2 separate regions of the Homo sapiens genome follow, and region 2 is linked to region 1. Evidence: fine-mapped expression QTL. A gene starts in region 1. The other region holds a variant in brackets. All regions are shown on one strand. Distances are from middle to middle. Region 1 holds the start of JOSD2 (Josephin domain containing 2). Region 2 overlaps GARIN5A (golgi associated RAB2 interactor 5A).

The links. PIP is the estimated chance that this variant, and not a neighbour inherited with it, causes the effect.
Region 2: its variant is the best candidate, but not a certain one, in a credible set for the expression of JOSD2 in whole blood (INTERVAL, PIP 0.88).

Annotation. Positions count from the first base shown.
Region 1 is chr19:50,509,849-50,512,747 of GRCh38, reverse strand. It overlaps JOSD2 (Josephin domain containing 2), which reads left to right and starts at 1,557. Exons shown (of 5, transcript NM_001270639.2): 1 at 1,557-1,631; 2 at 2,300-2,462. The coding sequence starts at 2,317. It overlaps ASPDH (aspartate dehydrogenase domain containing), which reads left to right. Exons shown (of 7, transcript NM_001114598.2): 4 at 1-87; 5 at 168-388; 6 at 458-612; 7 at 975-1,145. The coding sequence ends at 1,018. LOC124904747 (a long non-coding RNA gene) reads right to left here and starts at 1,330. Exons shown (of 3, transcript XR_007067300.1): 1 at 1,277-1,330. RefSeq lists enhancers at 363-952, 1,256-1,375, 1,870-2,376, 2,377-2,884 and a silencer at 1,576-1,705.
Region 2 is chr19:50,467,745-50,470,643 of GRCh38, reverse strand. It overlaps GARIN5A (golgi associated RAB2 interactor 5A), which reads left to right. Exons shown (of 5, transcript NM_001308429.2): 4 at 2,815-2,899. Among named protein-coding and RNA genes, the nearest start is that of EMC10, 7.3 kb to the left of the region's middle. The variant C/T (reference allele first, on the strand shown) is at 1,423.

The DNA.
Region 1 (2,899 bases):
CACTGGGACCACGCCGTGTTTGTGGCCCGAGGGGCCCTGTGGGGCGCTGAGGACATCAGGAGATTGGATGCAGCTGGGGGCCTCCGGGTGAGGCCTGCTGGGCTCCCCAGGAACCAGGGGAGGCCTGCAAAGACCCCACTCCCCCTAACCCGGGCTCTTGCTTCCAGAGCCTTCGTGTCACCATGGCCACACACCCCGATGGCTTCCGGCTTGAGGGACCCCTGGCTGCAGCCCACAGCCCTGGGCCTTGCACTGTGCTCTACGAAGGCCCTGTCCGTGGGCTCTGCCCCTTTGCCCCGCGAAATTCCAACACCATGGCGGCGGCTGCCCTGGCTGCCCCCAGCCTGGGCTTCGATGGGGTGATTGGGGTGCTCGTGGCTGATACCAGGTGAGCAGAGCTAAGCAGGGTGTTGGGCTGAGTCCAGGCTCTCCAGACTGACTGCCCCTCTTGTCCCAGCCTCACGGACATGCACGTGGTGGATGTAGAGCTGAGCGGACCCCGGGGCCCCACGGGCCGAAGCTTTGCTGTGCACACCCGCAGAGAGAACCCTGCCGAGCCAGGCGCGGTCACCGGCTCCGCCACCGTCACGGCCTTCTGGCAGAGCCTCCTGGGTGCGGCCAGGCCCCTCTCCCCCGGCCCTGGGCTCCTGTGTTCTGCAGAGCTTGGGGGTCCCGGGCTCTCACTAGTTCTGCAGTTCTGGTTCTGTATTTGTTGACCTTTCTTTCTTTCTGACCTTTATTTCCTTAACCTCTCTCCATGACTTTGAATCCTGGCACTGTAGATGTCTCCATTTGTGCCCGCCTCTGATCGAGACTCTCTCTGTCTCTGTCCACCCCCAGGGCTCTGTCCCGCTCTCTCCGGGTCTTCCTCCACCGCCCCCCTGCCCTGTCCCCTCCTCCCACCACTGCCTCCCCCAGGCGTCTGTCTCCTCATCTCTCCTCTGTCTCATTCGCTCATTCCCCTCTCCCCGCAGCCTGCTGCCAGCTCCCCTCCAGGCCGGGGATCCATCTCTGCTGAGAAGCCTCCTCCCTCCCGAGACAAGATCATCTGCCTGGCCTCTCACCACCACCATCCCACCCCTGCCCTGCCCCACTTCCCCAGGGTCTCCCTTCTGACTCAGTAAAGATCACCGCTGCCTCCCCCCGCACCGCCTGGCGTCTCTGATCCCTTTCCCTTGTGTGACGTCACGCTGCGTCTGCGCACCGCGCATGACGCCATCGCCGGGGGCGAGCACCCATGAGAGCGCGGCGCCAGGAAGCTATCGCGAGAGCCTACCTACTAAGTTTCCTAGAATCTCTGAGCAGTAGTGGGCGCGGCCGTATGCGAAAGAAGGGCCTCTGAGGCGCACTTCCGGGACCTGCCGCGGAGCCCGACGGAAGTTGTAGTGCGGCATTTCCTAGGCCCGACGGCCGACTTCAGGGCCACGCGGCCCGGGCGTTCCGTGTGGAGCAGGAGTCCCGCGGGGCCCCACGGGAGTCGTAGTCCGGCGCGCGGGGATCACCGGGAGCTGTAGTCCGTCCCGCCTGCCCAGTCAGCGCGGTGTTGCCCGCCCCGCACTCGGAGCCCAGAGCCGCCGCCCAGGAAGGGGATGCGGAAACCCCTGGCTCGGTGGAGCGGAGAGGCAGGCGGGGTGAGGGGCGTTGCCAGGCAAAGGGCGAGCGCCGTGGCTGGGGTGCGGGTCGGCGAAGGGCTCCATTCCTTGGTGTCCGGGGAGGGGGCCTGGTTGCTGGGTGATAGGAAGAGGAACTCCTGTTGCTTAGTGACTGGGGAGGGGGCCCCGTTGCCAGGTGACAAGAGCAGAGAGCCTCGCTGCTACATGACCGGGGAAGGGGAGTCTTCTGTTGCTAGGAGACCAGAGGGGACCCTATCACCTAGAGACAGGGGAGGAGGATTCTCTATTGCTAGGTGCTCGGAGGACAGACTTTGTTACCTAGTGCGGTGGGGAGGGGGCTTTGTTGCTAGGTAACCACAGAGCGCCCTGGTTACCTAGGGACGGGGAGGCAGGTTCCTCTGTTGCTAGGTGACCATGATAGGGACCCTTTTACTTAGAGACCTGGTGAGGGTGGTTTTCTGTTGCTAGGGGAGCAGAAGAGACAGCGTTTTTCGTAGGAATAGGAATAAGGGATGGAGGGACGTGTGCTGCCAGGAGACTGCCAGGGAGCGGGGTCAGGGGCCCAGTGTCTTCCTGGGCTGCTCCGAGTCCCAGCTCAATCAATGGCGATGCCCCAAAGGCCTGCTGGGAGGCTGGACCTCTAGATCCCGGGCCCCTGAGGACCTTCTCCCCCTCCCAACCCCCAGCAGGAGCCGAGGACGGCATGTCCCAGGCCCCGGGAGCACAGCCGAGCCCACCCACCGTGTACCACGAACGGCAGCGCCTGGAGCTGTGTGCTGTCCACGCCCTCAACAACGTTCTGCAGCAGCAGCTCTTTAGCCAGGAGGCTGCCGATGAGATCTGCAAGAGGTGACCGTCACCCACCCCAGCCCCTGGAGCAGCAGAGCTCTGGCGGAGTGACCCACCTGGGTCTCGCCGCCAGGCAGGCGCTGAGCCTTGGGGGCTTTCTTCTGCTCCGCGCTCACTTGCCTAAGCTAGACGCTGGGACTCTGGGGAGATGTTGCCTCCTGTGCCTGTCTGTCCCTGTGGCCTCAGCCCCAGCCAGACCTCAATCCAGTGGTTCTTTCTTTTTTTTTTTTTTTTGAGACTGAGTCTCACTCTGTTGCCCAGGCTGGAGTGCAGTTGCGCGATCTCGCTCACTGCGAGCTCGGCCTCCCGGGTTCATGCCATTCTCCTGCCTCAGCCTCCCGAGTAGCTGGGACTACAGGCACCCGCCACCACGCCCGGCTAATTTTTTGTATTTTTAGTAGAGACGGGGTTTCACCATGTTAGCCGGGATGGTCTCA
Region 2 (2,899 bases), 42 kb after region 1:
AGCCATACGCCACTTCTCCCTGCGCCCACCCCCTCGTCAGCACGACACCCATATCCGTTTTGTATTGCCATGAGCACAGCCACCACACTCTTTCAGACATATTTGCACAATTGGACTCTTTTTTTTTTTTGAGACGGAGCCTCACTCTTGTTGCCCAGGCTGGAGTGTAGTGGCATGATCTTGGCTCACTGCAACCTCCGCCTCCCAGGTTCAAGAAATTCTCCTGCCTCAGCCTCCCAAGTAGCTGGGATTACTGGCATGTGCCACCACACCCAGCTAATTTTGTATTTTTAGTAGAGACAGGGTTTTGCCATGTTGGTCAGGCTGGTCTCAAACTCCTGACTTCAGGTGATCCGCCTGCCTCGGCCTCCCAAAGTGCTGCGATTACAGGCCTGAGCCACCGTGCACAGCCTGCACAGTTGGATTCTTTTTGACCATTGCACGTGCTCTGCTGTCTTAGACACCAAGCTGTGTCCAGCCTCCTCATGTTAAAGTGGTAGGCAACGTCCTTAAACAAATGCCTGCCCTCAGACGGCTTGGTTTCAAATCCTGGCGTTACTTCATCACTGGCTTTGGCCAAGCTCAACCTACCTGCCTGTGCCTCAGTTTCCTCATCTGGATGACAGGGATAAGAGGAGAGCACACCCCATAAGGTTGTCGGGGGAAAAACTGGGTAAATATAATAGCAACTGGCTCTGAGTAAGTGCTCCACAAATGTCAGCTGTTATTCTTCTATTTGGGGGACAAAAATCAAGTCACCCACTGAGGGACACTGGGGTTTGTTGGCATCTCGGTTACAGGCGGTGTGGCAGGGGACATCCGCGCATATGTGTCTGTGCACAGGTGTGAGGGTGTCTGTGAGATCCATTCCTGGCAGTGATACTGCTGGACCAGAGAGGCCACCTGGCTACTCAGTGTTGTAGGTGAACATGGGACCTGGGCTCCAATCCTGGCTGTGTGACCTGAGCCAAGATCCTCACTCTTTCCTGACTGCTTCCTGCTCTGCCCTGTTGGACCTTAAATCGGGCTGCGGGCCTGAGCAATCAATTTACCAAGATACTCAAAAAGCATCCACTGAAGCATCCACTGAGCACCTGCCACGTGTCAGCTGCGGGTACCAGGGAAACTTTCACCACTGGACAAAGCAGGCCTCCAGGAACTCCCTGCCCTCCAGGAGCTCCCACTCTACCAGGCAGGCAGAGGGAACAGGTGGCCATTTGTTAGATGGGCAAGGCCTGTGGGGCTCCGTCAGACCGGAAAGGACTACGGGGAAGTCTCAACAGGGTGGATGTGGTTGAAATAGGCCAGGGGAGACATCCCTGAGAACATGCCTCCTGAAACACAGGGCGATGAGGGGGCGGGTCTTGCCTGGAGAAAGGGCTTTTCAGGTGGAGGGAACCATCTGTGCAAAGGTGCTAGGGT[C/T]GGACTGAGCCTGGTGTGTTCATGGAACAGCAGGGAGGCCAGTGTGGCTGGAGGTGCAGGAGGTGAGGGCAGAGAGGGAGCAAGGGGCTCTGCAGGTCTGTGGGCCACGGTGAGGGCTTTGTGTTTATTCCTGTTGAGCCAGAGCCACAGGAAGGCTCTGAGCAGAGGGACCCAAACTGCCCAAGGTGTTGACCTGCGCCTTCTGGGGGACTTGTGGGGAACAGACTGTAGGGACTGAGGGCTGAGGCAGGTGGCTGGACGCAAGGGTGGCGGAGGAGGGAGTTAAAAGAGTTTGGATTGTGGATACATTTTAAAGGTGGCAGGCAAAGTGAGGTGGCTCATGCCTATAATCCCGGCACTTTGAGAGACGAGAGGATCACTTGAGCCCAGGAGTTGGAGACCAGCCTGGCCAACATGGTGAAACCCCATCTCTACTATATAAAAATAGAAAAATTAGCCAGGCATGGTGGTGCGCGTATAGTCCCAGCTGCTCTGGAGGCCGAGGCAAGAGGATTGCTTGAGCCCAAGATGTTGAGGCTGCAGTGAGCTATGACCGTGCCACTGCACTCCAGCCTGAGCAACAGAGTGAGACCCTCTATCTCAAAAACCAACAAAAAATAGTGGAGCCACCAGGATGTGGTGTCAGGACTCATCAGGGTGTGAGAACATGGAGTCCACAGCGACTCCAAGATTTTGACCAAGCAAGAGGGGGATGTAGCTAAGACAGGGAAGACCAAGAGGAGTAGGCTGCGTGTGAGGGGCTGAGGGAGCTTGAGAAGTGGGCTGTTGAACATGTTATGAGTCGGATGGTAGATCCCACACCCAAGATGGGATTTTTTTTTTTTTTTTTTTTTTTTTGAGACACAGTCCCTCTCTCTGTCGCCCAGGCTGGAGTGCAGTGGCGTGATCTCGGCTCACTGCAACCTCCGCCTCCCAGGTTGAAGCAATTCTCCTGCCTCAGCCTCCAAAGTAGCTGGGATTATAGGTACCCACTACCACGCCCGGCTAATTTTTACTATTTTTAGTAGAGATGGGGTTCCACCATGTTGGCCAGGCTGGTCTCGAACTCCTGACCTCAGGTGATCCTCCTGCCTCAGCCTCCCAAAGGGCTGGGATCACAGGCGTGAGCCACCACGCCTGGCCCCAGATGGAAATTTCAAGTAGGCAGTTGTATATTCGAGTCTGGAGTTTAGGGGAGAGGACTAGTGGGAGACAAAAAGGAGACATGTGGCTGGAAGAAAGTTGGGAATGGACTCAAGTTCAAGAGGCAATGAAAGTGGAAAGGGATTCGTGGGGCAGAGGGAGGGGTGGCAAGGTGGGGACCCCTGACCCCGACGGTGCTGGAGGACCCGACAGGGTCAGAACCTGAGGCCGCCCCTTCCTCCCACCCAGGCTGTTCCCCTTGAAGTTCGTCCAGCTCTTTGTCCACGACAAAAGCCGGTGTCAGCTCGAGGTCAAGTTGAACACCAGCCGCACC